7 separate regions of the Homo sapiens genome follow, and all the other regions are linked to region 6. The links come from fine-mapping of genetic effects on gene expression. A gene starts in region 6. Each other region holds a variant in brackets. All regions are shown on one strand. Distances are from middle to middle. Region 1 overlaps SUCLG2 (succinate-CoA ligase GDP-forming subunit beta). Region 2 overlaps SUCLG2 (succinate-CoA ligase GDP-forming subunit beta). Region 3 overlaps SUCLG2 (succinate-CoA ligase GDP-forming subunit beta). Region 4 overlaps SUCLG2 (succinate-CoA ligase GDP-forming subunit beta). Region 5 overlaps SUCLG2 (succinate-CoA ligase GDP-forming subunit beta). Region 6 holds the start of SUCLG2 (succinate-CoA ligase GDP-forming subunit beta). Region 7 overlaps SUCLG2 (succinate-CoA ligase GDP-forming subunit beta).

Evidence for each region. PIP is the estimated chance that this variant, and not a neighbour inherited with it, causes the effect. A credible set is the group of variants that fine-mapping cannot tell apart.
Region 1: its variant is the best candidate, but not a certain one, in a credible set for the expression of SUCLG2 in NK cells (Gilchrist 2021, PIP 0.85).
Region 2: its variant is the best candidate, but not a certain one, in a credible set for the expression of SUCLG2 in whole blood (TOPMed, PIP 0.77).
Region 3: its variant is the best candidate, but not a certain one, in a credible set for the expression of SUCLG2 in subcutaneous fat (GTEx, PIP 0.71).
Region 4: its variant is the best candidate, but not a certain one, in a credible set for the expression of SUCLG2 in lung (TOPMed, PIP 0.75).
Region 5: its variant is the best candidate, but not a certain one, in a credible set for the expression of SUCLG2 in breast (GTEx, PIP 0.74).
Region 7: its variant is the best candidate, but not a certain one, in a credible set for the expression of SUCLG2 in nasal epithelium (TOPMed, PIP 0.74).

The regions. Positions count from the first base shown.
Region 1 is chr3:67,521,042-67,525,563 of GRCh38, reverse strand. The region is part of intron 4 of SUCLG2 (succinate-CoA ligase GDP-forming subunit beta); the gene reads left to right. Among named protein-coding and RNA genes, the nearest start is that of SUCLG2, 130 kb to the left of the region's middle. The variant A/G (reference allele first, on the strand shown) is at 2,254.
Region 2 is chr3:67,487,521-67,492,042 of GRCh38, reverse strand. The region is part of intron 9 of SUCLG2 (succinate-CoA ligase GDP-forming subunit beta); the gene reads left to right. Among named protein-coding and RNA genes, the nearest start is that of SUCLG2, 160 kb to the left of the region's middle. The variant A/G (reference allele first, on the strand shown) is at 2,695.
Region 3 is chr3:67,438,348-67,442,869 of GRCh38, reverse strand. All of the region lies in intron 9 of SUCLG2 (succinate-CoA ligase GDP-forming subunit beta), which reads left to right. Among named protein-coding and RNA genes, the nearest start is that of SUCLG2, 210 kb to the left of the region's middle. The variant G/T (reference allele first, on the strand shown) is at 2,816.
Region 4 is chr3:67,413,894-67,418,415 of GRCh38, reverse strand. The region is part of intron 9 of SUCLG2 (succinate-CoA ligase GDP-forming subunit beta); the gene reads left to right. Among named protein-coding and RNA genes, the nearest start is that of MIR4272, 190 kb to the right of the region's middle. The variant G/C (reference allele first, on the strand shown) is at 2,767.
Region 5 is chr3:67,445,972-67,450,493 of GRCh38, reverse strand. The region is part of intron 9 of SUCLG2 (succinate-CoA ligase GDP-forming subunit beta); the gene reads left to right. Among named protein-coding and RNA genes, the nearest start is that of SUCLG2, 210 kb to the left of the region's middle. The variant C/T (reference allele first, on the strand shown) is at 2,632.
Region 6 is chr3:67,652,293-67,656,814 of GRCh38, reverse strand. It overlaps SUCLG2 (succinate-CoA ligase GDP-forming subunit beta), which reads left to right and starts at 2,203. Exons shown (of 11, transcript NM_003848.4): 1 at 2,203-2,312. The coding sequence starts at 2,229. It overlaps SUCLG2-DT (SUCLG2 divergent transcript), which reads right to left and starts at 2,118. Exons shown (of 7, transcript NR_109992.1): 1 at 1,713-2,118. RefSeq lists an enhancer at 1,897-2,396 and a silencer at 1,912-2,591.
Region 7 is chr3:67,479,441-67,483,962 of GRCh38, reverse strand. The region is part of intron 9 of SUCLG2 (succinate-CoA ligase GDP-forming subunit beta); the gene reads left to right. Among named protein-coding and RNA genes, the nearest start is that of SUCLG2, 170 kb to the left of the region's middle. The variant T/C (reference allele first, on the strand shown) is at 2,519.

The DNA.
Region 1 (4,522 bases), 130 kb after region 6:
TCAATTACTCCTGCACCATTTTTTGAAAAGGCTTATCTTTTCTCCATTGAATTGCTTTTACATCTTTGTCAAAATTCAGCTGGGCATATTTCTTTGGGTCTGTTTTGGGGTTCTCTGTTTTGTTCCATTGATCTTTGTGGCTGTCCCGCCACCAATATCACAGAGTCTTAATTACTGTATTTATATAAATTCTGAAATTGAGTAGAATAACTCTTGTCACTTTATTCTTCTTTTCCAAAACAGTTTTACCTGTTCTAGTTCCTATACCTTTTTATGTACAATCTAGAACAATTTTATCTTTACGAAAAAATCTTGCTAAGATTTTGATAGGAATCTTATTAAACCTGTATATGAATTTGGAGGGAATTGGTTTTTTGTTATGTTAAGCCTTGCAACCCATGAGTATGATATGTCTCTCCTTCTTTTAGGTCTCCTTTGATTTATTTCATCAGCATTGTATTGTTTTCAGCATATACGTTTGGTATATGTTTTGTCAGTCTTACACATACATTGTTCTCTTTTAAAGCAATTACAAGTGGCATTGGATTCTTAATTTCAGTGTCCAACATGCTCATTGTTAATTGGTGTTGATTTCTTTTTAAATGCTTGGTGAAGTTCCCTAGTGAAACCATGTGAGCCTGGAGATTTATTTGTCTGTGCCTGTTAATGTTTTTGGGTTGCTGGCTTCTCTAGCACCCAGCACCCTGCCTGAGATTTATGAGGCCAAAGAAAACATAGGAGACTCACTACCATACGCTTCCTTGGACCTCAAGCTCCCTAGCTAGTCTCCCTTCTTCTCTATAACTTTCAGAGTCACCTTAAGTTTTATGTATATATATGTCCAAGGCTTTTATTTGTACTTAGCGGGAAGAATAGGGAAAAACATGTCTACTCCATCTTCTCAAAAGTATAAGTCCCCAGATTATAGAACCTTTTGATTCTAAATTTATTTCAGAAGCTATTTAAACACATACACACATTTATACACATCAGATATTTGTTTTCTAAGTCTGTGCCAATGTGTTATGTATTCCTGGGGCTAGTACTAGGGCCTGTGAGACAGTGCTACTCATCATGCGGTCCAGGATTCAGTACCAATAGTGGTTACTGCTCTGTAATCAATTTAAAATTCGAGAATGTACTTTTAATCTTCTCTGTTCATGGGTGTGTTACAAATAGTTTGTACGCTAGCACTCATCTCCTGACCACAATTCCAGTAGCATGATATTTTTAAGGAAACAGATTCAGCAGTAGATAGGTCAAAGAAAGTTAAAAAGCTTTCTATACTGGTGGACTCCACAAAGACGATGTGTCAACATATTCTTTGTGTAACTCACAGGTGAAGCTCTTTTGAAATGTTTCTAATGGAGTTGCTCCGGGATGAGTGTTTGTGGATTCCATTTAGATTTCTCTGTAACACTTCCTAATATACTCTGTCATCCTCGGTCATTTGGAAGGCATGACGATGTCAACAAACTGGTCTTTGTTGTATAAAATTTCTTGAATTATCTCTTGATAATTATCATTTTCCTGGTGACATTTTCTTAAAGAGTCATGCATTATTCCTGTGAAGCAAGAGCTGTTTCAGACAGTAGCTGGGCTTCACAAATAGAAATTTGGTGGAATACAGAGCACGTCTGTCAACATTTTTGAAGATTAAGAATAGGACTCTTGAATGACACTTATCCTAAAAAGTTATAATTTTGTGTTGCCTCTAAGAATAACTACTGAAAGTCATTAAGTATTATTCTCTAAACTAACTCTGCATTAGAAAATGAACAGTATTATGCCAGTAGACCTGAAAGCATATACCAAACACACTCCTCATTTTGTATTTTGTGCCAATCAAATTTCTTAAAACAGCTTTCTCTTCTAGAGAAAGTTTTAGAAGAAATGATTATCTTAATTTCTTAAAATGTTTGTATTAATGTTGATGCTTAGAAAGGCAGACTTTATGTTATTTCTATAAACGACAAGTTGTTACTGTATTTTATAAGGAAAGAATAGGGCTAAGTATTTTTGCTTCAAATATTGTCCTACCCCTCAATCAGAAATTCTGAAAGAATTTACGGTTTCAAGCAACCTGAAGACTGGGAGAATTAGGCACTGACTGATGGTTTGACCTTCATTGTTGGTGAGAACAACCAACTTGAAATCAGAATGGTTCTGTGCTAATTCTAACACCATGTGCTGAGAAACAGTTTTTATATACTTATGAACTTCCATTTCTGATAAATCAATATGAAGACCTAT[A/G]TATTTTATTTTTAACTAATGGTAAATTCAACAAAAGTTTGAAAAAGAGGAGTTCTATATTCATTCCATTATAGCTTTTTAGATCATTATATATTTATCCCATTTCATGTGACCTAAAACTTAAGTGTTTTTGTGGTATCTGAGTAGTTAAAATCTAATGCTACTTAATCTGTAACTTTTTTTTGTGGAACCCATCACTAAACTACTTGTAAAAAAAGCAATGTGGCCGGGTGCGTTGGCTCACACTTGTAATCCGAGCACTTTGGAGGCGGAGGTGGGCGAATCACGAGGTCAGGAGATTGAGACCATGGTGAAACCCCGTCTCTACTAAAAATACAAAACAATTAGGCCAGGCACGGTGGCTCATGCCTGTAATCCCAGCACTTTGGGAGGCCGAGGCGGGCGGATCACGAGGTCAGGAGATTGAGACCATCTGGCTAACATGGTGAAACCCCGTCTCCACTAAAAAATACAAAAAAATTAGCCGGGTGTGGTGGCGGGCACCTGTAGTCCCAGCTACTTGGGAGGCTGAGGCAGGAGAATGGCGTAAATCTGGTAGGCAGAGCTTGCAGTGAGCCGAGATCGCGCCACTGCACTCCAGCCTGGGCGACAGAGCGAGACTCTGTCTCAACAAAAAAAAAAAAAAAAAGAAAGAAAAGCAATGTTAGTGCTTTCATTGTTTTCACATCTATTACTGATTATTTATGGGATTGTTTTTATATTCTTTAAACATCCAAGATATCTTTCACTGTTCTTGTTAGGTGCGTAAGTTGGAACAACCTCTCTCAAGCACTTTGACAGTACTTATCAACATTTTAAATATTCACAGTTTAAAACCTAGACATTTCACTTTTAGGATACTTATCTACAGGGATACTAAAAGAAATGAACAAAGATACATGTACAAAAATACTCACTAAAGTAGCATTTTAGGAAAATTGAAGTTCATGTAAATGTCTGTCAGCAGGCCAGGCACCATGACTCATGCCTGTAATCCCAACACTTTGGGAATCTTAGGCGAGTGTATTGCTTGAGTCCAGGAGTTTGAGATCAGCCTGGGCAACATAGCAAGACCCCATCTCTACAAAAAATAAAGCAAAAATTAAGTGGCTATGGAGGCACGTGCCTGTAGTTTCAGCTACTCAGGAGATTCGTTTGAACCTGGGAGGTCAAGGCTGCAGTGAGCCACGATTGTGCCATTGCACTCCAGCCTGAGAGCAACACAGCAAGACCATCTCAAAATGAATAAACAAATAAATAAATAGATAAATAAATAAATAAATGCAGGAACATGGTTAAATAAATATTGTCATATAAATACCATGTAATCACAATGAAGAGAGAAGACCTTAGAAAGATATTTAAGTTGTAGTATTAAGATTTTAAAAAAGAGGCCAGGCGTGGTGGCTTACCTCTGTAATCCCAGCAGTTTGGTAGGCTGAGGCAGGTAGATACTTGAAGTCAGCAGTTCAAGACCAGCCTGGCCAACATGGTGAATCCCCATCTCTACTAAAAATACAAAAATTAGCCAAGCATGGTGGCAGGCACCTGTAAGCCCAGCTACTCGGGAGGCTGAAGCATGAGAATTGCTTGAACATGGGAGGCAGAGGTTGCAGGGAGGCAGAGGTTGTAGGGAGCTGAGATCGTGCCACTGCACTACAGCCTCAGTGACAGAGTGAGACTCTGTCTTTTTTTAAAAAAAAAAAAGATTAAAAAAAAGAAAGGCATCCTGTTGTATATAATGTGCTTCCACATGTAGGATTATTCCATTACTGCAATGCTTGCAGATACATAGAAAAGGACTAGAATGTCAGCAGTGGTTTTTCCTGGTGGGGCTGTTACATGAAATTCAAGTCCTACAGAGCAAAAGGACACCTGGCTGAGGCAGTGAGTCCCCACTCACTTGTGGAATTGAATGACATTCTTCCATCCCACTTGTCCCCTGTCTAGTCATGGCCCTGGCAAATGACCACATATTCCCAGAGGAAGGGGTGCCTTTTTCTAGTTATCACGGAGGTTCCTGGTAGGCTCGTATCTGCCCTGACTCCTGGGGCCCGAGGGTTTATTTGAGGTAGAGCTGTGCAGCAGGAAGCTGCTTTCACTTTCTCATTTATATATTTTTGGTATCGTTTGCATTATTTTTGAACAAGCAAATATTCTTTTTATAAATTAAAAGGAAGTATAAAATGAAGTAAAATATAGTGATCGAAGAGACAGAAATACACAAACATATGAAGCATCAGACATACTGTAAAAGAATCCGTCTGTG
Region 2 (4,522 bases), 160 kb after region 6:
CAAGTTGAAGAATGGAAGGGACTCTTAGTGGGATTCTTATGCCAGACTGCCTGGGTTCCAGTCTTGTCTTTACCAGTTACTGGTTGTGGGACCTTGGGCATGCTATTTAACTTCTGTGTGCCTTGGTATCCTCGTTTATAAAGTGGTAATAATAGCAGTACTTACCTCAGAGGGTTGTTTTATTACACATATTGAGACACACACGCACACTTTTCATTTAGAGGGAAAATAATTTCATATGACAGTATCATTTAAAAAATTTAATAAACTTATTAAAGTATAATCTCCATACAGAACAGTATACAAATTTTAAGTATACAGCTTGATGAATTATTACAAAGTGAACATATCATCTAACCTCCAGCCAGATCAAGAAATAGAACATGGCTGGATGCGGTGGCTCATGCCTGTAATCTCAGCACTTTGGGAGGCCGAAGTGGGCAGAAGGTCGGGATTTCAAGAGCAGCCTGGCCAAAATGGTAAAACCCCGTCTCTACTTAAAATGCAAAAATTAGCCAGGCGTGGTTGCAGGCACCTATAATTCCAGCTACTTGGGAGGCTGAGGCAGGAGAATTGCTTGAACGCAGGAGGCGGAGGTTGCAGTGAGCCGAGATTGTGCCATTGCACTCCAGCCTGGGAGACAAGAGCGAGACTTCGTCTGGAAAAAAAAAAAAAAAAAAAGTAAAAGAAAAAGAAATAAAACATAACAGGGATCCTGGAAGCCTCCTCCTCATGCAGTCCCCATCATTTTCCTACCCTGCTTTCTCTCCACAGGTAATTTCTTTTCTTTTCTCTCTTTTTTTTTTTTTTTTCTTCTGACTTAGCCTCCTGAGTAGCTGGGACTAAAGGCGTCTGCCACCATGCCCGGCTAATTTTTGTATTTTTAGTAGAGATGGGTTTACCTTGTTGCGCAGGCTGGTCTCAAACTCCTGATCTCAAGGGGTCCTCCCGCCTGGGCCTCCCAAAGTGCTTGGGTTACAGGCAGTAGCCACTGTGTTCGGCCCTCAAAGGTAATTTCTAATATCACAGATTTGTTTTACCTATTTTTAAACTTAATATCACTGGAATCATGTACTGTATACTCTTTTGCATTTGTTATCTTTTACTTTACTTTTGCTACTGGTTAGTCTTTTCAATTTTAGTCATTCAGGTAAGTATGAGGCATTATCTCATTATGGCCTTTCTGTCATGACTAATGAGGTTGAGCACCTTTTCATGTATTTATTAGCCATTTGAATATACTCTGTAAACTTGTATTACCTCATCTATAGACATGAAAATAATACCTTAAAGCATTGTTTTAAGTACCAACTTGCAAACCTTTCTAAAGCATAGTGAAAACTTTGGCTTTTTATATTTTCTGAGTGTTTCATTCCATTATCACTTCCAAAACTTAGATTTAGAATAAATGCACATCTCAGAAATGGGAGGTGTCTGATACAGGTTCAGTGATAATCAGTGTTACTTCATGTGTTGTTTTGAAATTGATGGAAGGTGTAAGTGACTCAGCTTACAATGATTCTCTACTCAGACAACCAAGGAAACAGTTAATAAAGGGAGGATTAAATTCATGTTTGAAAGAAGAACAAAATATAATTTGTTATAAATTTGAGAAGAGGCCAGCTCTTTTTGTGCTCTATGGTATATGTTTCAGAAACTTTAGAATGTGAAGCCAGAGAAGTAAAACTGCATGCCATATTTTCAGAATCAGGTATATGCAAATGCCTTACGTTTTAATATATTTTAGGATTCACTTGTGCTGTCTCATATTTTTAAATTATTGCACATTTAGAGTTTATTTAAGTACAAAGAAGAATATCCTGTTTTCTTTCAGATACATGCGTATAACTGAGGCACAGAGCTGTTTAAACTTAAACTGAGGTGCCGTAAAATTGTCAGGAGTTGATTTGAATAACCAGTGATTCACGGATTGAGCAGCTCCAAACCAAAAGTGCTTCCAGGGCTCCATCAAAAGAATGTGAAGGGAAGACTTTTATAGGGCAAACACGAAAGTAAAGCAAAGAAAATACTGGATTGGTTACAGTTATACTGTTGCCTTATTTGGTCTATCCTCCTGGAAAGTTCTAGTTATGTAACCATAAGTTAGATAACTAGAACTTTCTGCTTCCAATTGGTTAGCCTTAAGTTTCATTTTTCTGTAACATAGGCATTTACAAGAAATAGCTCAAGTTTTGTTTATGTCTGCAAATCAAGCAGAGTTAAGATCACTTATGAGGCCTAACTGGCTTTGTCTGCTCAGAGATTCTTCAGGTCTGGTGTCCATTTTAATTTATTGTAACAAAGCAAAACCCATTTCATTACACACCACATGTGTTTGCTGAAATACCTTATCTGCAAGCGACTGTTTTCTTTGTAGGGAAGTAGAACTCTTGTAGGAATTTATTTTCGAATATAGTGCTCAATACTTTATACAACACAAGCATTATTTTTGAAATGACTACCCTGCATTTCTATTCTTGCAGGTTTGCTTGAAAATATGTATTTTTTTCATATAGAGTGGAAAAGATTAAAATTCCAGGCAGCCATTCTTTCTAGTGGTAGTCGACCTGATAGTCTAGTCTGTGGAGAATGATTAATTTTGTGTTGATCAGCTGGTCATTTAGTCTCCACTTCCACTTAGAATAGCTCTTTATTTAGGGAAGTCACTCTGCATAAGCTAGAGGATGGAAAACC[A/G]TCTACCACTCTGGGCCCTTTTCTTTTTTCCCCCGGCAGTAGTTTTCCCAGTGTGAGGAATTCATAAATGTTGATTTTTGCATATCTTTTCCTGATGTCTAGTTAATTAAAATTTCCAAGAATATCTGGCCCTCCTTGCCCACCTCACATTTGTTCCATTTTACCTGCCAATACTTCTCAGTAATAAGTGGGTCCTGGTGACTGCATTTGGTTTTGTGTCTTCCACATGATCGGTGTATCTGCTAGCTACCACATTTTCAAACCATCCCTAATAGAACACTCAAAATCTATTTACATGCTCCTCACTGACATACCCTCAGAAACAAGCCAAAAATAAGATTTTTACTCTTTACTCTGTCTTCAAAATCCAGGTTTTAATGCAACCTACTTTGTTTTATGGTAAGTGACTTGAATAATTTAACAGATTTGGGGCTTAGTAAATTTTGTCGTTAGTCCCAGCAAGCTCCGGAATTGATTACGAGTCCTCTGTGTAGATGCCTTTGTAGAGTGTTAAAGAGAAATGGACCATGAATCAAAGTATAATGCCATATAGTTTGGAAAAATATATAATTATTAGAAGAGTTAGGGTTGTTGTTTTCCTTAATGTTATTGCATAGAGAAAATGAAGCATTGAATGCAACAATTAGAAAACAGTGCATTTCTCAGCAAGACAATCAATAATGGTCGGGAATAATGTCAAGAATCTCTGCATCTTAAGAATAATCTTATGTGGCAGGGCATCTGAAAGTTGTACTATTAGTATTTTTGAGATGTTACTTTAAAATTCAGATAAAGCCTGGTAAAGGCATCATTAGATGTGGGTAGTGAACTTAGGAAAATCATTCAGAAGAACAAGGCTGAAATCCTTTGGACTGATTCCTTTCCTGTATAGCAGAGGTGAGATGTAGTCTGGTGGGATGTGCCCCATGGATTCAGGAGATTGCAGATACTGTGAATCCTTTTTTTCCTCTTTCCATGCTGCCCCACCCACTGTCAGAGAATTAGGAATTAGGAAAGATGGTCTCATTCCTAAACGAGCAACATGTCCATATGGGCTTGCCTAAGAAATTGGCTCGACTTAGTAGTTTGCTAAATAGTCTTTTGTCCTTATTTTAGGTTATTTTATAAATAGTAGTCCCTTTTCCTAATTATTAAAATAAGGACAAACAAAAGAGAAAATTATAAAATAGATTACACAGATATATTTATATATACCTTTTTAAAAAATATATATATATACACACACTAGTTTTGACAAAACTAGACTTATATCATATAATTGACAATATTATATAGTCTGCTTTCTTTCTTTTTTTTATGTGTTTTGCCTGTCCTAGTACAGTTCTCTATAACATTTTCAGTGGCGGAATGGTATTTACTTGTATGGATATACAAGTTTACTTAACCTAGTGCTCTGTTATTTGATATTCAGGGTGTTACAAATTTAAAATAATGCCATGAACCTCCTTGTTCTCATAACTTTACATAAAGCTGGGATTATTCATATAAGATAAATTCCTAGAAGTGTAAGGGTCAAAATGTATGCACATTTTAAGGTTTTCACATGCATTGCTGAATTACCTCAGTAATAGTTGAAGGACTTGTAGAGGGCTAACATCAGTGAGTTGACTGCCCATTTATTTTCCCATGTCTTGGCTATCATTGCTGTAATTCTTTACCAACAGGAGAGGTAGCATTTTTAAATTCTTTTTCTTCTATTCAGCATTTGTAATGCCTCTTTATGACTTGCCTTTTCTTTTTTTTTGTCTAGTTTTCCATTATTACATAATTCTCACAGTGATTTAGAACACAGGACTCTGTGTGTGTG
Region 3 (4,522 bases), 210 kb after region 6:
TTTTATTTTGTCTGAATTCAGTCTGGGAAATGATTAATTACAGGGCAATATTTCTTGTCAAGTTGTGAATAAATATGTTTAGCATTAGTATAGATGTTTACAAACAAGAAAACTCATACTGCTTGCCAAGCAGTTGATTAAAAAATGCATTCAGTTCACCACAAAGTCTCTGTAGGAAAAATCTTTACATTTGTATGGGTTGGCATTTAGTAATTAAATCTCTAAATATTTTGATTAGGCTGAAGGCCACCCAAAGTCTTTGGTCATATCTGAAAAACACTTTCAGCCATCAGTAGGAACAAAGCTCTAGGACAGCCACTGTCATTTTCACAGGAGTCTTAAATCTAGAGCAGTGTGCATAAGAATCCCCTGGAAAGCCCTTTAGAACACAGATTCTTCAGCCCCACCTTTAGAGATTCCAATTTAGTAGCCCGGGGTGGGGACGCAAAATGTGCAGTTGTCACTAGCTTCAGGCCAATACTGATGCCGCTGTTCCAGGTACCATAGTTTGAGAACCACTGTTCTGGGGATTTCAGTTGTGATTTGAAAGTAGACAGCCTGGCCGGGCGCGGTGGCTCACGCCTGTAATCCCAGCACTTTGGGAGGCCGAGGCGGGCGGATCACGAGGTCAGGAGATCGAGACCATCCCGGCTAAAACGGTGAAACCCCGTCTCTACTAAAAATACAAAAAATTAGCCGGGCGTAGTGGCGGGCGCCTGTAGTCCCAGCTACTTGGGAGGCTGAGGCAGGAGAATGGCGTGAACCCGGGAGGTGGAGCTTGCAGTGAGCTGAGATCCCGCCACTGCACTCCAGCCTGGGCGACAGAGCGAGACTTCGTCTCAAAAAAAAAAAAAAAAGAAAGAAAGTAGACAGCCAGATTGATGAAATCAACCCTTTTTAAAAAGGCTTTTGCTTGACAGGTATTTTATATATTTCAGAACAAGATACTGATGGGAAAGAAAGATGGCAAAGTGTTTTCTGTAAGATTTGGGAGGAGGAGCAGATGGGAAGCCAGTATGTTTGCCCTTTTATTTCTCTTTTCATTAACAGCAGTGGGGAAATATTCTGAGTTATTTTTCTTGGTTCCTTTCATGCCCTCTCCTTCTTTCCTAACAGCAAGTATGTTGGAAGTGGCTTGAACTCTGCCACTTCTAGCAATGTCATCTTGGGTAGATTACTGTATATGTTAGTTATCTGTATTACTTTGTAACAAAAGATCCTAAAGTTGAGCAACTTAGAACAACATCTATTATCACTCCCAGTTTTTGAGGGTTGGAAATACAGGAGCAGCTTAGCTGGGTTGTTCTGGCCAGGGGTCTCCCATGAGGTTACAAACTGTTGGTTAGGGATGCAGTCTCAGAAGTATTTGGAGTATGTTTTCAAGCTCACACGCAGACATATTTGCAGGAGGCTTCAATTCCTTCCCATGAGTCTCCATAGGGCTACACATGACAAGACAGGAGACTCAACACAACACTGAAGCCACAGTCTTTTTTTTTTTTTTAAGTTCTGAGATACATGTGCAGAATGTGCACGTTTGTTACATAGTTATACACATGCCATGGTGGTTTGCTGCACCCATCAACCTGTCATCTACATTAGGTATTTGTCCTAATGCTATCCCTCCCCTAGCCCCCCAGCCCCTGACAGGCCCCAGTGTGTGATGTTCCCCTCCCTGTGTCCATGTGTTCTCATTGTTCAACTCCTACTTATGAGTGAGAACATGCAGTGTTTAGTTTTCTGTTCCTGTGTTAGTTTGCTGAGAATGATGGTTTCCAGCTTCATCCATGTCCTGCAGAGGACATGAACTCATCCTTTTTATGGCTGCATAGTATTCCATGGTGTATGTGTGCCACATTTTCTTTATCCAGTCTATCATTGATGGGCATTTGGATTGGTTCCAAGTCTTTGCTATTGTAAACAGTGCTGCAGTAAACATAAGTGTGCATGTGTCTTTATAGTAAAATGATTTGTAATCCTTTGTCTATATACCCAGTAATGGGATTGCTTGGTCAAATGGTATTTCTAGTTCTAGATCCTTGAGGAATTACCACACTGTCTTCCACAATGGTTGAACTAATTTACACTCCTACCAACAGTGTAAAAGCATTCCTGTTTCTCCACATCCTCTCCAGTATCTGTTGTTTCCTGACTTTTTAATGATCGCCATTCTGAATGGCATTAGATGGTATTTCACTGTGGTTTTGATTTGCATTTCTCTAATGACTGGTGGTGATGAGCTTTTTTTCATATGTTTGTTGCTGCATAAATGTCTTCTTTTGAGAAGTGTCTGTTCATATCCTTCACCCACTTTTTGATGGGGTTGTTTGTTTTTTTCCTGTAAATTTAAGTTCTTTGTAGATTCTGGATATTAGCCCTTTGTCATATGGGTAGATTGCAAAAATTTTCTCCCATTCTGTAGGTTGCCTGTTCACTCTTGTGATAATTTCTTTTTCTGTGCAGAAAGCTCTTTAGTTTGATTAGATCCCATTTGTCAATTTTGGCTTTTGTTGCCATTGCTTTTGGTGTTTTAGTCAGGAAGTCTTTGCCCGTGCCTATGTCATGAATGGTATTGCCTAGGTTTTCTTCTAAGGTTTTTATGGTTTTAGGTCTTACATTTAAGACTTTAATTCATCTTGAGTTAGTTTTTGCATAAAGTGTAAGGAAGGAGTCCAGCTTCAGTTTTCTGCATATGGCTAGCCAGTTTTCCAAACACCATTTATTAAATAGGGAATCTTTTCCCCATTGCTTGTTTTTGTCAGGTTTGTCAAAGATCAGATGGCTGTTGATGTGTGGCGTTATTTCTGAGGGCTTT[G/T]TTCTATTCCATCGGTCTATATATCTGTTTTGGTACTAATACCATGCTGTTTTCGTTACTGTAGCCTTGTAGCATAGCTTGAATTCAGGTAGTATGATGCCTCCAGCTTTGTTCTTTTTGCTTAGGATTGTCTTGGCTGTATGGGCTGTTCCTGGGTTCCACATGAAATTTAAAGTAGATTTTTCTAATTCTGTGAAGAAAGTCAGTGGTAGCTTGATGGGGATAGCATTGAATCTGTAAATTCCTTTTGGCAGTATGGCCATTTTGACGATATTGATTCTTCCTATTCATGAGCATGGAATGTTTTTCCATTTGTTTGTGTCCCCTCTTATTTCCTTGAAGAGTGGTTTGTAACTCTCCTTGAAGAGGTCCTTCACATCCCTTTTAAGTTGTATTCCTAGGTATTTTATTCCCTTAGTAGCAATTGTGAATGGGAGTTCACTCATGATTTGGCTCTCTGTTTGTTATTGGTGTATAGGAATGCTTATGATTTTTACACACTGATTTTGTATCCTCAGACTTTGCTGAAGTTGCCTATTAGCTTAAGAAAATTTGGGGCTGAGACAATGGGGTTTTCTAAATATACAATCATGTCATATGCAAACAGAGACAATTTGACTTCCTCTTTTCCTATTTGAATACCCTTTATTTCTCTTGCCTGATTGCCCTGGCCGGAACTTCCAATACTATGTTGAATAGGAGTGGTGAGAGAGGGCATCCTTGTCTTGTGCCAATTTTCAAAGGAAATACTTCCAGCTTTTGCCCATTCAGTGTGATATTGTCTGTGGGATTGTCATAAATAGCTCTTATTATTTTGCGATATGTTCCATCACTACCAAGTTTATTCAGAGTTTTTAGCATGAAGAGGTGTTGAATTTTATCAAAGGTCTTTTCTGCATCTATTGAGATAATCATGTGGTTTTTGTCATTGGTTCTGTTTATGTGATGGATTACGTTAATTGATTTGTGTATGTTGAACCAGCCTTGCATCCCAGGGTTGAATCCTACTTGATCGTGGTAGAAAAGCTTTTTGATGTGCTACTGGATTTGGTTTGCCAGAATTTTATTGAGGATATTTGGATTGATGTTCATCATGGATATTGGTCTGAAATTTCCTTTTTTTATTGTGTCTCTTCCAGGTTTTGGTATCAGGATGATGCAGTCCTTATAAAACGAGTTAGGGAGGAGTCCCTCTTTTTCTATTGTTTGCAATAGTTTCAGAAGGAATGGTACCAGCTCCTCTTTGTACCTCTGGTAGAATATGGCCGTGAATCCGTCTGATCCTTGATGTTTTTTGGTTGATAGGCTATTAATTACTGCCTCAATTTCAGAGCTTGTTATTGGTCTATTCAGGGATTCGACTTCTTCCTGCTTTAGTCTTGGGAGGGTGTATGTGTCCAGGAATTTATCCATTTCTTCTAGATTTTCTAGTTTATCTGTGTAGAGGTGTTTGTAGTATTCTCTGATGGTAGTTTGTATTTCTGTGGGATCAGTGATGATCTCCCTTTTATCATTTTTCATTGTGTCTATTTGATTCTTCTCTCTTCTTTATTAGTCTGGCCAGCGGTCTGTCTATTTTGTTAATCTTTAAAAAAAAACAGCTCTTGGATTCATTGATTTTTTTTGGGTGGGAGGATGAGTTTTTCATGTCTTTATCTCCTTCAGTTCTGCTCTGATCTTAGTAATTTCTTGTTTTCTGCTACCTTT
Region 4 (4,522 bases), 240 kb after region 6:
TCTTGGCAAACTACTTCAGCTTTCTGAGCCTCAGTTTTCCTGTCTCTAAAAATAATGGTAATAAAATCATAGCTCATAGGAGTTTGGAAAGGGTTGAATTACTTATATGCCAGGTAAATAGTGAGTAGCAATAATTGCTGACTGCTAATAAGTACTTACCACTTGCCACGTACTGGGCTTAGTGCCTTATTTTAATTATCTCATTTAATCCTGGCACCAACCCTGCAAAGGTAGGTACTAATATTATTATCCCCATTTTAAAGATGAAGAAACTGAGGCCCAAAGAAGTTAGCTAATTCACACAGCTAATAAGTGATAGAGCCAGTGCTTTTGTTGCAGAGATCAGAATCAGAACCTACTGCATGGGTAGAATTTTACAGCTCCTCGAAGTCAGGATCATGTATTATTTATCTTTGTATCTTATGTCCTCTTTTTGGCCTCAGGAACCAGAACAGTATTTTGTTGTGTCAGATGAGGTCCCCCAGTATAAAGATTAAAGAATAACTTTCAAACAGCTATAGCCTCAACAATGCAATGGAGGGATGCAATGGGCCACCTTGCAAAGGAGGAAACTTTTGTCTTTGAAAAGGTTCAAGCTGCGGTGGCTGAACCCTCAGGTCCTGCCTAGCTCTAAGATTTTCTGGTTCATTCATCTCCCCGGCATGCCCACATTACATAAGGTGCCTTTCTCTGCTGGAGGAAAAGGGGAAAGAGTACACATCTGTGGGTTATGTGTTAAATCATTCAGCCTTCACTCTTACAAAGTAAAATCTCCTACTCAGGATCCTACCAACTATTATTGTCTACGTTTTACTAAAGAATCAGATTTTCATTTCCACTCCGATTTTTAGTTTTGAGAAACTAGTTCAGTTCCTTGTTAAAAAGTATTGTAGGCATCGTGTCGCACCATTATTAAGAAATGTATTTTACAATATGAATGTAGTGCTAGGTGAATTTATATGAATTATTCCATGTTTGAGAAGGAACCATTTGGTACTTGTTCTGAATACAGTTGTTTAAGGGAAGAAAATTGCAGACATGCAGTTTTGTTCCATCCCATTTCAAAACCCTTGGCCTTGTCTAGGCAGCTAGCAATGATGACTGCCTTGAAAATGAAATTACTGTGGTACTTTCTAGGTACTCCAGATCTTTAATTATTTCCAATATATTGCCAAATGAAACATTTATGAAAAAGCTTACAGTTACACCAAGTATCTTGAAAATTTACACTTACGTTGGTGAAACATCAAACAGTACAGTGTATGGTAGTACTATTTTTTTTTCTCTAGACAAGAATTCTCTTTGCTCTTTTTTTTCATGACTCATCCTTCCTTAACTCATCTTTCTTATCCTCTGAAGCTTTCTTTTCAGAGAATCAAAATAGCTTTCTTCATCTTTTTTTTCTTCACTTCACAAGACCTCCACTTTTGAATGGTAGGAATAAGGTTGGTTTTTCCACAGGAATTGGTTATAAATTCCTTCTCCATGCCGAAGTACACTGGCCTCTAGTGGATACCTGTCTCAGTTGTAGTTCATACTGATCTTGCCTTAATTCACTTATTGTAGCACTAAACCAGATATTTTAATAATTTTCAATAGTCTATATTAAGGAACACAATCAGAACTTTGGAGGGTTTAAAGTAGATTTTATTATGAAATTGATTAAGCTTTATGTGGATAGTCATATACTTAGCAATATATTTAACAAATTTAGATTATCTCCTGCAATTTCTTAAGATGTAATTGTGATGTTAACTCCACAGTACTTTTCATTTAACTCACATTGCACTTGAAGACTTAAGGCATATGTAACAGATCATTATAGAAATCAGCCCAACTTACTCATGTCAGAGAAATAAGATTCTAATAGGATACCAAATTGTCTCATATTCCCTGTACATAGTCCTGATTAAGAAAAAAAAGCTAGCATTTTCCAAAGCAGTATTATTATAGTGGGATTTTTTAAGTATAAAATTTAGGAAAATCATCTGTTAAAAAGTATAAATCTATGTCACTTCTTAGAACTTGCAGTTTAGTATATTTCAGTATGGCAAAGGATTAGTTTCAATTTTCATATGTGGTCATTAAATGGTAAAAGCATATACATTTTATTCAGCAATCTGCCATTAATTTAAATGTGAAAAATATTTTATTGAAAGAGCTACCTAAATTCTTATTCAAAACTCTGCCTATCAGTGAGCCAACAATTCAACCTTGAGTTTATTGATAAGTGACATCTGGTTTTGGTTGTAGGTTGGTTCTGCCTCAGGGTCTCTCATGAGGCTGCAGTCAAGAAGTATGCCAGGTTCACTGTCATCTCAAGACTTGATTGACTGGGGCTAGAGGATCAATCTGCTTCCAAAATGACTCACATGGCAGTTGGTAGGAGGCCTGAGGCCTTGGTTCCTTGCTGGATAGAAGTCTCTTGAGTGTCCGTCCTTATGGCTTGGCAGTTGGCTTGCCCAGAGTGAGTGATCCAAGAGAGAGAACAAATAGGAAGGAGCCCCAATACCCTTCATAACCTGGTCTCAAAAGTCGCACACTGTCATGTGTACCATATTCTGCTCATTAGAATGAATCACTAAGTACAGCCCATGCTCCAGAGGAGGAAGATTAAGCTCTACATCTTGAAGAGAGGAACATTAAGGGATTTGTGGGCATATTTTAAAACTACCATGGAAGGAGATCTTCAAGGGAGGATTTGTCTCATGTTTAAGGAATGTGTTGCATCTGGTGTATATAAAGGACATTTTAGGCTATGCCAAG[G/C]ATTTCAGCCAAGTTGGCCAGTAAGGTGACTGAAGGTGTTAGAGTAGAAGAGTATAAGGCAAACCATATGACACAGTAGATCTGGAGTCACATGAGGGTTTAGGATTATCAAATGTGTGGCTTAGAGGAGTTACCTAATGCCTCTATACTGTATGCCATCTGTAAAATATGGAAAGCAGTTACCTTCCTTATAGGGTCGTGGTGAGATATCAGTAAGTTAAGATAGATAAAATACTTAGGCAGTGCCTAGCATCTAGTAAGTGATTAAGAAGTGTTAGCTACTTCAGCCTTAGCATGATTGCTGTCATGTGTAAATTCATGTTGTATAACTCTTCAATCCTCGTTTTGTAGCCGGAGAAATCCTTGTGTCCTTCTCCAAACTTGCTTGGTTTCTTTTCTCTCTCTGTGTAGCTTTATTCTGCATTCCAACATTCACACATGTAACAGTTTTCCATTCGAATATTTCATTATATGCAGAAATATTTTCAAATTCTGGCCAAGCATGGTGGCTCACGCTTGTAATCCCAGTACTTTGGGAGACCTAAACAGGAGGATCACTTGAGCCCAGGATTTCGGGACCAGCCTAGGCAACATAGCGAGGCTCCATCTCTACCAAAAACTTTTTTAAAAATTAGCTGGGCATGTGGCAGATGCCTGTAGTCACAGCTTCTCAGGCGGCTGAGGTGGGATCACTTGAGCCTGAGAGGTCAAGTCTGCAATGAGCTGTGATTGCGACATTGCACTCCAGCCTGGGCAACAGAGCCAAGATTGCATCTCATAAAGAAAAAAGAAATAGAAATTTTCAGATTATTTGAGGGAGTGGGAAAATCCAAAAGTTAGAGAGGGTAGTGATAGTATCAGGAAAGATGCACTGGTTTGGAAAGCATCTTCTGGGATGTTGATACATCTACCTAGTTGTGGGAGATACACAGATTAAGCAGTAAGGACAGATGCTGCTCTCAGATACATTTTGTCTAGTAAGCCTAGTGTTTTTAAAAATCCAGAATTTTGGCTTTTGAAAACAGGAAAGATCTGGGCATAAAAGGCCTACATTCGCATGGCAACAATTGGATAGATTGTGTAGCAACTGCCCCATTTGAAAAGGCATGTCCTTGCTGGTATGTCAGAGTATTTTCTGTTGTCTTAATCTAATACCTCTCTACTCATTTACTTACCTGTCTGGCACTGAGTTTGAAACCACCCCTTCCAATTAAAATTAACACTCTGCAAGTCAGTTAGTCAATATAATCTCCCATAAGAAGTACCCCCAACATCAATGTACTCGATACATCTATAAAAACAGTCATTTGGAACTGTAACATGAAACTGGGATGGAATTCCTGTTCTCAAATCTGCCAAGGCAGAGATTACAGTCTTCTCAACTAGGTGGCAAGAACTTCGGAGTCGAGTTAGATGGCATAGTATGAAAGGGAACTCGTGTAGCAGAAATGGGCATTACAGGAAGCATCACCTACTCAAGACAAACAAAAAAATGGGAGATGCCCTCAGCTAGCCTTGAGCAACACAGAAGACCATCCAGGTTTCCGGAGTAAGAACTTTGACATGATATTCAAAGCAATCATGAAAATAAAAAGGTGGCAGGTCAAGACATTTACAAAAATATTTTTTTCAACCCAAGAAGCTTTTTTTTGATAGGACACAAAATAGACATTAAATAAGTTAAAAACTATTTTTTGGATTTAACATATTGGAAAATACATGTTCATGAGATAAACCCACACTGAGAAACATGTGT
Region 5 (4,522 bases), 210 kb after region 6:
TTGAGAAAGTGTATTCCCTCTTTAGTTCTTTTTCAATTCCAGAAAATCTCAAGAAAGTCTCTTGGTGCCAATATGGCTTAAACACTTTGCTTTGGCTCAGAGCCACTGGCAGCCTGTATCTAGTTACAATTTAATAAAACTATTGTACATTTTCCCAGGTTTGGTAGCTTGAGCCTGTAATTTCAGCCACTCAGGAGGCTGAGGTGACAGGATCGCTTCAGCCCAGGTGTTCGAGATCAGCCTGGGAATCATAGCAAAACCTCATCTCAAAAAAATATTTAAAAGTTAGCCAGGTGTGGTGGCACGTGTCTGTTGTCCTAGCTACTGGGGAAGATAAGGCGAGAGGATTGCTTGAGCCCAGGAGTTCAAGGCTGCAGTAAGCTATGATTATGCCACTGCACTTCAGCCTGGGCAACAGAGCAAGACCCTGTCTCTAAATTAATTAGTTAATTTTAAAAAAAATACTGTTTTTTTGTATTTTATTATCTTCAATTTATAGGAATTAATATGTTATTTTTCGTATTGATAGTGATACTGTTCTCTTTTCAAATAATGTATTTAAGCTTTAAAATATTCAGCATGGCCGAGTGCAGTGTCTCATGCCTGTAATCCCATCACTTTTGGAGGCCATGCAGGTGGATCACTTGAGGCCAGGAGTTCAAGATCAGCCTGGCCAACATGGCAAAACCACATCTCTACTAAAAATACACAAATTAGCTGGGCATGGTGGCACACACCTGTAGTCCCAGCTACTCAGGGGGCTGAGCGTGAGGATTGCTTGAACCTGGGAGGTAGAAGCTCCAGTGAGCGAGGTCACGCCACTGCACCCCAGCCTGGGCAACAGAGTGAGACTATGACTCAAAAATAAAATAAAATAAAAATAAAATATTCAGCAAATAGCAAACAGATAGTGTGCACTGTTGTGGTAAAAAAAAAAAAGGCAGAGGTATTATGTACATGTCTGATGACTGCTATAGGAAAAGGAGGATTATTGAAGAATTTGAAGTAAAGGACTGGACTAATTGTTTTGGAAGTTAAATTATTCACCCTCTGCTCTTTGTATGACTGCAGAATGAATATAGAGTTTTGGGCTTTTATAGTTCCTCTAGTCACTGTTAAACTTCAATATGTGACAGTGACTGCCTGTCTGCATGTTCAGATTTTCTTCACAAGCCTATGAAAGCAAAGATCCCAGATAAAGCTCATAGGCTTTCTAGTGCTTAAGATGTGGCACTCTTTACTTGCTTTTGGAAAACATTCACATATTTCCTAAAGGGGCAAGAGATATATATTCTTGAAATAAAATAGAGCCACTTAATCAGAGTGGTTTGCCAAAGGGGACTGCCTGTGGATTGGATTTTAATCTGTCTGTCACAGTCACCTTTTCTTTTTAGAATGTTCTTAATAGAATTTAGAAAACACCATAAAATACCTCACTTATATAAAGTAAATGTAAAATAATGTGTTTCTGTGAAAGCAAAAAAGCAAGAAATATTCAAATTCAACAGTGTTTTTATATTACTTCCATCTGTCTATTGTTACAATTCTGTGTTCATTACTATCTCAATGGAATTCAAAAGTTTTTTTTCACTACCAGAATCAACAGTAATAATGATAAGCAGTCAGAATAACTAGACTTTACCCACTAAAAGAAAAGAAAAAAAAACCTTTTTTACACTTGATTCAGAAATAGTGTTTTTTCATGCAGTTTAAACATTGTAAAAGTGTATTGTTTCCTAGTACCAGCTATATGTCCTTATGAACTTTCATATTTCTGATAAATTGTTAGAAGTAAAACTGCTAAAGCAACATATTAATATTTTAATTGTTATCTACTTTTTGAAACAAAAAGTAGCTGGTATCTCAGGTACTCCTGAGGTCGGGAATTTGAGACCAGCCTGGCCAACATGGCAAAACCCTGTCTCTACTAAAAATACAAAAATTAGCTGGGTATGGTGGCACATGTCTGTAATCCCAGCTACTCAGGAGGCTGAGGCATGAGAATCACTTGAACCCGGGAGCAGAGGTTGCAGTGAGCTGAGATTGCACCATTGCACTCCAGCCTGGGCTACAGAGTCAGAATTTAAGTGTGACTCTTCTCTGTTCCCCTTCTGATATGTTTACATGTCTCCTAATTTGTTCTTTAAATAAATGGACCCATCATATATGTATTCTGTGACTTACATTTTTACCTAATAGGTCTTAGATTTTTATGTTAATACAAATGAAACTATTTCATTCATTTTTATGACTGCATTCCATAAAATGAATGATAATGTATTACCAAGTCCCATCTTGATGGCTATTAAGTTATTCATAGTTTTTTGGGGATTTTTTTCATCCAGTGAATATCATCTATATATCCTTATGAACTTTTGTATTTCTGATAAATTGTTAGAAGTAAAACGGCTAAAGCAACATATTAATATTTTAATTGTTATCTACTTTTTGAAACAGATTTTCTCAGCCGGGTGCGGTGGGTCATGCTTGTAATCCCAGCACTTTGGGAGGCCTAGGCAGGCGGATCACCTGAGGTCAGGAGTTTGAGACCAGCCTGGCCAACATGGCAAAACCCTGTCTCTACTAAAAATACAAAAATTAGCCGGCCATGGTGGCACATGTCTATAATCC[C/T]AGCTACTCAGGAGGCTGAGACATGAGAATCACTTGAACCCGGGAGCAGAGGTTGCAGTGAGCTGAGATTGCACCACTGCACTCCATCCTGGGCTACAGAGCAAGACTCCGTCTCAATAAATAAATGCATTAATAATTGTCTCAATAAATAAATAAAATGGGACAAATTTTTTCAAGTTTTTATGAACTTTCTTTTCCATTGGCAAATATGTTGATTTGGAATATAGTTCATTAATTACCCAATACTTCTGTTGTGGGAGTCAAAGCTTCCTCCTGAAGTATCTTGTTCCTGTTTTCTGTATCCATTCAGTGTATTGTATTCTGCATTTCTCCTGCCCTCCATGACACACATTTTTCCATTTCTGTACCCCCAGATTGTGGGCATAATCAAATCAGAGTTGTACTGATTTTTGTAGCTACCTGCATCTATCCCAATGCCTGCCATGTAATAACTGCTCAATGAATATTGAAAAGATGGTAGGAAAAAAACTCATTCCTACACTTATAAAATCATATTTTCTATATTTAAACAGTCACTTTTTGGTAATGACTTGTTAAGACATTCCCTCTCATTGTTGGGGTTCAACTTTATAGTCAATTTTGTATTTAATTATAGTATTTTATGGTACTTCTAGTATTATTACAGTTGAGAAATGAGGTAGAAATCCTAGATGTTAGTAGGTAAAATGATTTTTTAAAATTAACTCAGTTTTATTGACCTTGAATTTTAGCATGTTTTTCAGTAGGTGATTCCTGTTAACATCTGCATTTTGACAACACACTTAAATAAAACTAGTGAACCAGAGAACAATGAATTTTCATCAGCTAATTACTAGTGATGATTTTAACCTGTTTCAAAAAACTAATGTTAACCTTTTTTGATTTTTAACCATTTTCTTCCTCAAACATAAAGGATTATTTAAAAATTTGCATCTTATTAAGGATTACATTAATGGAAGTATGCAATTAATAGATAATCTTTTTTTAATATGTCACAATTTAAAATAAAGTGAATAGTGATTATAGTGAATAAAGTGTGTAGTTATATATTTTTCTAAAAGTGAAATACCCTTTTAATGACCAACATTCTTTGAGTGCCTGGCATTGTTTTGCCTAAAAAGACCTGCACATGGCTGGGTGCAATAGCTTACGCCTGTAATCCAGGCACTTTGGGAGGCCGAGGCGGGCACATCACAACGTCAGGAGTTCAAGACCAGCCTGGCCAATATGGTGAAATCCCATCTCTACTAAAAAAAAAAAAAGAAATTAGCCAGGCGTGGTGGCAGGCGCCTGTAGTCCCAGCTACTCGGGAGGGTGAGGCAGGAGAATCCCTGAACCCGGGAGGTGGAGGTTGCAGTTAGCGGAGATCATACAACTGCATTCCAGCCTGAGTGACAGAGCGAGACTCTATCTCAAAAAAAAAAAAAAAAAAAAAAAAAAAAAAATGTACATATGTACATATTTAGATACCGGAGAGATCTAATTTCTTTTTTTTTTTTTTTTTTTTTATATACAAATGTTTATAGCAGCATTATTCATAACAGCCAAAAAGTAGAAACAATCCACTTTCCAAGGATGAACCTTGAAGTGATTGCCTAAATTATCCTTTTTACTTAGGCATTCACTTCCAAATCCAGCTGCGCATTGACATCACCTGGGAAGCTTATGCAGCTCCCTGGCAATCTTTGAGGATGGGATACCTGGATTAATGTTTGAATCCAGACTAGACGATCTCTAAGGTCCCTGATAGCCCCAAAACTTGTATAAAATCTCTAATAGTGGGTCACCAATGCCCACATCTTTGAAGAAGAGACATTATTGGTACTTGGAACAGGTCTCCCGATAGGTCCGTCTAGAAGCCTAAGTTGGTTCTTCTCTTAGGCATCATCCC
Region 6 (4,522 bases):
AGTTTTCTCTTCTGCAAAATGGGGATTGTACACTTCTACTCATTTAAAACTTTGCTATGAAGACTAAACAAGTTTATATTTGTCTAATGCTTGGCACACATTCAGTAACTTTGCTGTTGTTTTTATTATATGCACATTGCTTAGACTCGCGTAAACTCTGTGAAAGGGAAATAATCTTGGGACTCCCAAATCACTAAGGTAAAGGGAAAAGTTAAGGTGGGAACTGCTTAGGGCAAACCTGCCTCCCATTCTATTCAAAGTCATCCCTCTGCTCACAGAGATAGACGCACAGCTGATTGCTTCCTTTGGAAAGGCCAATCAGAAACCCAAAAGAATGCAACCCTTTGTGTCTTATCTACCCATAACCTAGAAGCCCCTCCTTGCTTCCAGTTGTCTCGCTTTTCTGGACCAAACCAATGTACATTTTACATATATTGATGTCTCATATCTCCCTAAAATGTATAAAACCAAGCTGTGTCCTCCACCACACCTTGGGCACATGTCAGGACCTCCTGAGGCTGTGTCACAGGCACGTGTCCTTAACTGTGGCCAAATAAACTTCTTAAATTGATTGAGACCTGTGTCAGGTATTTGGGGTTCACAGCTCCAAATGAATGTTGCTTTTATCACTCTGATTACTGGGCTTAAAATCCTCCAATAGCTTTGTGTCCGGAATTGGTTCCTTCCCGTGGGTTCTTAATCGTCTCGCTGACTTCCAGAATGAAACTGCAGACCCTCGCGGTAAAGATGGCGTGACCAGAATTTGTTCCTGCAGATGTTCAAATGTATCTGGGGTTTCTTCCTTCCGGTGGGTTCGTGGTCTCGCTGACTTCAGGAGTGAAGCCGCAGACTTCACAGTGAGTGTTACAGCTCTTAAAGGTGGCCCGTCCGGAGTTGTTTGTTCCTGCCTGTGGGTTCGTGGTCTCGCTGACTTCACGAATGAAGCTGCAGACCTTTGCAGTGAGTGTTACAGCCCTCGAAGGTGGGGCATACGGAGTTGTTCATTCCTCCCAGTGGGTTCGCAGTCTCCCTGACCTCAGGAGTGAAACTGCAAACCTTTGTGGTGAGTGTTATAGCTCATAAGGATAGTGCGGACCCAAACAGTGAACAGCAGCAAGAGCTACTGCAAAAAGCAAAAGCACAAAGCAACCACAACCTGGAAGGAGACCCCAACTAGGGGCCACTACTGGCGCCGGTGTCCAGCTTTTATTCCCTTATTTGGCCCCACCCTCATCCTGCTGATTGGTCCATTTTACAGAGTGCCAATTGGTCCATTTTACAGAGTGCTGATTGGTCCCTTTTTAAAGAGTGCTGATTGGTGCATTTACAAACGTTTAGCTAGACACAGAGCGCTGATTGGTGCGTTTTTACAGAGTGCCGATTGGTGTGTTTACAAACCTTTAGCCAGACACAGAGCACTGATTGGTGCATTTACAATCCTTTAGCTAACAGAAAAGTTCTCCAAGTCCCCACCTGATTAGCTAGACACAGAGGGCTGGCTGGTGTATTTACAAACCTTTAGCTAGACACAGAGCGCTGATTGGTGCATTTACAATCATTTAGCTAGACAGAGAAGTTCTCCAAGTCCCCAACCGACCCACCCGGCTTCATCTCTCAGCTTTACATTGATTTTAGGTTAAGGATAGAACAAAACAAAACACCCACAACTCCTTAAGGGATGGAGAGCCTCCAATGGCCTCTCCTTGACTCACCTGAAGCCCTGGGCTGCAGGAACCTCACCTGTCTCTATTCGTTAAAGTCTCAGCTCAAACACCACTGTCCCAGATAGGCCTCGTGACCGCAGGACTAGACCACGGTTCTCTGCGGAGGGCGTCAGCTCCGTGAGCCACCCTTCCAGCACCCACTGCCATGGCGAATATTTGCTTGTTTGGCCATCCAGGGACTGTTTGAGCCCCAAGACCGCAGGGCTCGGGGTCTGTCTTTGCTCAGGACGATAACCTGGGGACTGGACAGTAGGCCCTCAGGCCTTGGGACCGCTCAAAGTGAACCGGGGCCGGGTGGGGGACCCAGGGCTCTGCAGCCTTAAGAACGCCTGTGCCCCCGGGACGCAGGGGTCAGGCCCGGCCCGGCCCAGACCGCCTCTGCCTCCTCCTCCTTTTCCTCCCCGCGCCCGCTTCTCCTCTGACCCCTCCTCCCGCTGCTCCTCCTCCGCCTCCTTCCCCTGCCCGCGCCCGCCCTACTGCCCCGTGCCGAGTTTCCTGTTTAAGATGGCGTCCCCCGTAGCAGCGCAGGCCGGGAAGCTTCTGCGAGCCCTAGCGCTGCGGCCCCGCTTCCTGGCGGCCGGGTCCCAGGTGAGCGTGGGGGCAGGAGCTGCGGGCGCCAGCAGCGGCGCCGGCCTGCCCGGGCTTCCCTCGCCCCCTGCTACTCTTGGTCTCCGCCTGACCCCCTGCGCGGCCCCTCGGGCGCCCCACTTCGGGAGGTGACGCGGCGCCGGGTCCAGGCGCAGCAGGGAACCCCGCTCCAGTGTGGGGCAGGGGCGGCGCGGCGGCAGCCCCGGGTGCCTCGGGGTATGAGCGACCCAACGCACTAGAGTCTCCGCTGTCTGCCCGCGCAGACTCATGGCGAAGGCGCTGAAGCAGGCGCTGGACGCAAGTTTAAGAAAAGTTTCTTGGACCGGGTTTTGGAGCCCTGAGGTTTTATTGTCAGCTCTACTAATTCTGCTTTTCAAACTTCTGGCACTAACCCTGAGCACGTTTAGACCACGTGATAAACATGCCTGGAAACCCGTTTCAGCCCAACTAGGAACTCACCCCCTAGGGTGAACTTCCTGCAGGCTACCTGCTTTTGCAGACTTTTAATGTGCCTGAGTTGGTCAAATCCGTGGGTCAAGGAGAAAAATGGGAAACGATCTTTCTCCTCTTTCCAATGAAAAATCAGGGCTGTCACTAAAACGCATTAGACCATTGACCCTGTCCATGTCCTCCTTGTTGATGGAGAATGAAATCAAAGAGGGTCAGTGGTGGGCTGGATAGCGATTGGAACTTGGCCTCTAGCAGATTTTTACCTTCTGCAGATGGCAAGCGTTAAAATAGTCAGAAGGACTTCAGGAAAGTTTTGAGTTGGTGATGACTCTTGTAGAAATCACTCAACCACTGAACTGGTTAGTCTCCGTAGACTATCTCTCTTCCCTTTTAAAGAAAGCACAGTCTGGGATTCAGCCACAGCAGAGTTAATGACCTTGCCTATTTCCCCATTTTTAATTGATGAGAGGCAAATTATCACTCATACAATTTTAACCAGGATGTGCATAGTATAGTTTTTTAGAAAATTTAAAAAATAGTGATTAATGATTTTTTGAGTTCCTCTAAACTTTGGTTATGACATCTGTGAGCTATTTTTACCCCTCTCCTTTCATTTCCTGCCTCCCCATTTCTCTGTTATTGTTAATGTAAATTTAAAAGGTGCTAATACTTACTACTGTAATATTCTTAATAGGTGCTTGACAGTATAGTGAGGTAGCAAAAGGAATGGCAGTTTTGTCTAATTAAAACTCACTAATAACTGTTGTAATAGAGTAAGGAGAATAGCTCTAGGAGATGAAGTCCTATTCATTATTTAAGTGTTAGAAAAAACAAGAACTAGGGTGCTTACCATGAGTGTAGACTTGAATTGATGAGAAACATGGGGCCCAGGGCAGTGAAAACTCATGAATTGTACAGAGAAACTGAAAATGCAGAGTGTTTAGCTGAAATATGTGAAGCCTACTTCCCTAACCAAGAAATAAGAGGCTGAACGCAACACAGGAGAAAATCTGGTTGGGGAGAGATACTCTTGGTTTGTCAAGAAAACTGGGTAAAAAGATCTGTTAGCACGCCCCATCTGGTTACTGTGATTTACATATTTGTGGATGATGTGTTTTTCTGTAAATTCTTAGAAGGTAAAAGTAGGTTTTTTTAAAGATAGAAAGGTACACAGTGTCCAAGAACTGGAAATGGACATTAGCAATCATTTAGTCCAGCCAGCTCATTTCATGGGTAGAGAAATTGAGGCCTAAAGAAGTTCAATGACATATTCAACGATACAGTGAGAGTTTGTGGCATTCCAGAGTAAAGGCTTACCTTTACGTTTCCGTTACACCATGCTGTTTCCTGGTGAGTATATACTTCCTCATGAAAATATATTATATCAACATGCAAATTAATCTGCATGCCAGTAGTAACTATATAACATCCAAGTCATTAGCACCACTGACACATTTTTATTTTTTTCTTTATGACCATCTTAGAATTGTCCATAAAAATGGTGAGTATTGCTATTTTCAAATTCTTGGGTGCTTCCTATGATCTGTTTCATGTACACTGATTTGATATTACGTTTCCATAGTCCCTTGCCCGTGGCAGACATTGCAGTTAAACATGGCCCACTTCTCTCATCATACTTAAGAATCCTCACCAAGTGTCTCAGAAATCTGTTGCCACTCTTGGCCCAGACCTATTTTATACCACCAGGCCTTGTGAAAAACTGTTGTCTGTACAGAAATAAAAGACCCAGTTTCTGCTTA
Region 7 (4,522 bases), 170 kb after region 6:
TGGCAAGCCTCCTGTAAGCCAAAGCTTGGTTCTAGGGAGACTCAAGTACCAGGCAGATAACTAAGCCAGGAACTCAGCCATAGGTACAAGTCAGGGTGTCAACCATGAGCTCAAGATTCATTCCACAGCAAGAATGACTTGAGTAGGTAGGGGGGTGTTCTCCAGCATGTCAGGGGGCAGCTCTGCAAAGACCCCTTTGTGAAATCAGTTACTAGTTCCTCAGACCACAGAATGACTAAACTGGATTAAAAGCCATTTAGAAACATCAGCCAAACAAGAATATATTAAGTGTCATCCCTGCCAGGCATTCTTATAGGCACTGAGGATAAAGCAGTGAGTGAAATACATCTCGTCTTGTTCACTGGAGGTGCCATTTTAAAGAGGATAGAAAATCGTTTACACTGGTGAGTAACTAGTAAAAGAAAATTATGCAATATATCTGCTGGTGCTGTCTGCTAGTTTGAAATATAAAAATGAAAGGGGGCTTGAAAATGCCAGGTGTTTGTTATTTCTGATAGATTTGTCCAAGCAGACCTCTCTGATAGTTGACCTTAGAGAAAGAAATGTCATCGCCGTTCCATGATTTGGAGTTGGAGTTTGTGGGTAATGACATGAATGCTATCAATGAAAGAATCTGCCCCTCGGAGTTGTCCTCCTTTCTCTTGTCTTGACCTACCAAAGTGTTCTGAGCAATGTTGCTTGCTTTATTACAGATTTTTTTTTTTTAAGTTTTGTCCACTTAAATAGTTTACGCAGCAACTTTACCCTAATTTGGGTGGCAACTCTCTCGCAATTAGAGGTCCTTTCTGAATATCAATGGATATTTCATCTGCATACCCAGGAACCTCTCCTGAGAATGCTTCATTTCCACCTTTGAGGTCTTCTGAAATGGAGCACTGCAAACACACATATTAGCATTCCCAAGGGCCATCTGGTACAAATCCGAGTTAATTATTTTTCTTCCAGCTTATCTGTGGGTTTTTTCATTAATTGTTATCTCTAAGTATTCTGGACACATCCTTTTTTCTCAATTAGAACTCAATAGAAAGTTTTTGAGCAAACGTTTAGGTGTCTGCTCTAATACTGAAAGGCCTGAAGATCGTAAACAGCAAGCAGAAAATCCATTTGGAGCTTTAACCCTTGACCTTCTAGGTTTCACTTGCTCGTTAATCCCAAGTAGCACATTTCTCTGAGAGGGAGACAAAAGTGACTTAGAATCTTCCGTGTGTCATTATGATCCAAGAGTCTTGGCATTTGGGTAGCAGGTGTGAGAGAAAACACCAAAATCACCTCATATTTAGATGATTTCTGATATTTTCTGTGTTTTATAACCTGTGATCAGTAGTTGCATTTCATGAGTGGAGCCTTCTTCTCCATTAAGCTGAACGACCAAATAGTTAATCCAAATGCTGACAGTGCTGACCAAATTCCAAAGAATAGATATTTGGTATTCAAATAAGAAGGGTGAATGAAGCTAAAGTAAAAAAATACAAAAGTATAGAAACATGAAGAGAACTTATACTGAAAGAACAAATTCTTTGATTCAGTTTTTCTATACAGGTACTTCCTTAAAGGCACTGCCAATTGAAAGTTGCACCAATTTATCCTACAGTGTGAAATACCTTAAATAAGGTATAGGACGGAAAGTGAAGCCCCATCAGCATACTATATTTCTCTTCTAGTGGTTACAGCTTGGTATTTCTGCATCCAGCCTGCAATCAACAATTCTTTCTTCCTTCCCTCCCTCCCTCTCTTCCTTCCTTCCTTCCTTCCTTCCTTCTTATTGAGATAGTCTCACTCTGTCACTCAGGCTGGAGTGCAGTGGCATGATCTTGGCTCACTGCAACCTCCACCTCCCAGGTTCGAGGGATTCTCCTGCCTCAGCCTTCTGAGTAGCTGGGACTACAGGAGAGTGCCACCATGCCCAGCTAATTTTTGTATTTTTTAGTAGACACAGGGCTTCGCCTTGTTGGCCAGGCTGGTCTCAAACTCCTGACCTCAGGTGGTCCGCCCGCCTCGGCCTCACAAAGTGCTGGGATTACAGGCGTGAGCCACCACGCCCTGCCAACAATTATTTCTTGAGCACCTACTATGTGTCAAGTTAGGAGCTAATCGAGAAAGTAGGAAACCATCCGATATTTGATGCTATTGGTTCCAATGGGGCTTTCCTTATCAATTTTTTTCTGATTGTAATAATCTCTTTAAAGCAGAGAAAGGTAGGTACCTGAATGACAGATGTAGTCTTTTCTGCAGTCTTTTTAAGGCTCAATAAAAACCCAGTATAGAGCAATATTATACTTAAGGTCACATACCAGTCTCTAGGTTTACTGAGATTTGTCTGTGAAGGCTTACTAATCAGAATGTCAGCCATGGACTGTCAGTGTTGACAACAATTTTTAAGCTGTTAGAAATGCACAGTCTGTGTTTTCATGGGATCTCCAGGTGATTGCTGTGCACGTTAGAGTTTGAAAAGCCCTGGTCTAAAGTAGGGACAGACAAACTACAGTCCATGGCCAAG[T/C]CCTGGCCAATGCCTGTTTTTGTAAATAAAGTTGTACCGGAATACAGCTGTGCTCATTCACTTTCTTAAGGAGTTAAGAAGTTGTGACCAAGAAGTCCTGGTCCACGTGGTCTAGAGCAGTAATGCTCGAAAGTGTGTGGTTGGACCCATGCCAGTTTATGTACCAGTGCCTGTTTGTGAGCTGTTTTAGGTTTGTGATAAGTACAGATACTGAGAATAAGCATTTAGAAACTTGTATTGCTAATTACCCTTGCCATGACATGCAAGAGGAATATCAATTTTTTAGTAATTTGCATTATTACATTTTATAATAATACAAGTCAATGAGTTAGGGAATTATTTTTAAAAATTCATTCATCATCACAGATTATGTAAGAAGCAGCACTCTATGAGTGTAGATGATATGTTTGTAAAAAAAACAGTGTCATAAGTGAATGTGATTGTACATCTTGATGCCAAAGTGAACTTCCTTATGGGCTGCGGTAATCACATTGTCCTATTCTTTGCTCACCCTGCTTTTCCATGAATCTTCCTCTTGTCTCTTTGGGGATACTTCCTTGACCTTGGTGATGCTGTAAAATGTGATGCCTTCTTTCTCTCTGTATGTCTTCACTTGGATCCTGTCTTCCCTAGCTACTGCTCACAGAGTAAGCTTTCGCCCAGGCCAGGCCAATTGCTTTACTGCATCCCTGCCATTGTAGGTTACTTTCAGGGATGGTCTCTGGCCACAAGTCCCTCAAGCTAGTTAGAACCTTCCCCAGGGGTTTTCTGTGGAAGCTCATGAAAGAGGCCACCTACCTCTGGGATCATGAAAGAAAATAATGTGGCCCAGGAGGCTACATTCCCTAGTAGCTGGTGAAAGCCTGTGTAAGCTCCAGGAGCAAAGCTCCTGCCATGCTATGATGGAGGCTCCTGCCATCATAGGGCTTAGTTCCTCTAGCCTAGGTTTCCATGACTCCATGGTTTTCAAAAGTGTGGTTGGACTAGCAGCATCAGCATCATCTGGTAATCTGTGAGAAATGCAGATTCTTGGGCTCCACCCCAGACCTTCAGAGTCAGAAACTCTGGGATGAGGCCCCGGAATCTGAGTTTTAACAAGCCTTCTAGATGATTCTCGTGTTTGCTTGCATTTGAGAATGTCTACTACAGCTCTATAGCTCCTCCTTATTTCTGTGAGTTACTTTAGCATCCTTCCCAGGTGTAAGCCAACTGGTTCCCTTTAACCCCTTAAATTAGAGTTGATTTTCGGTCACTGACAACACAGAAAGTCCTGTTTCACATACCATGAGTACTATTCTTAACCAAACCGAGAATATGCCTCAGCACACTCTTGCGTCCTATGGTGGCCCAGAGCTCACCTCTGTTAACACTTATTTTTATTTCCTTCCCCATACGCTTTATAACCCCTTATATTTGAAGATTTTTATTCTCTTCTATTTCTGTTTCAAAATCTGTCCCTGAAATGCAGAGGACTGTATCCATTCTAAAGTGACTTTGTTACCCAGATGAGAATTAAGGATAATCTTCCAGATAATAGGTAGAGTTCATCAATGTGGTTTGTAAATGCATTTTTCTAAAGATCAACTCCCTCATGGAGGACTTTTATTTTCCTTCTCTCCAAAAGTAGACTACATCAAGTTGTGTAATTTTTAAGTGACTTTCTATAAACTTTATGAAATTACCTCATCTTGAGCTCAGTCATCGAGGTAGATCTAATTCATTTTTGTCCCCGTTAAGTTACCATCAACTGCTTCTTTTCACAAGAGATTTCTTTCCTATTACTGCTCTTCGTGCATTTAATCACTCTTAGCGCTTTCTTTCCGCCTCTTGATTTATAAGTGTTTTGCTGTGATTCAGTCTCCTGTCTATTCTTGCTACAGAGTACAACCTTCATTTGTTATCTGTGTTCCTTGTGCTGTCTGGGGAAAAGGACAGTGGTCAGATCTTTCAGTATTTGACAAACATCGTGATAATAGAGTGTTTCAAGATGGAGATGTTGAATCA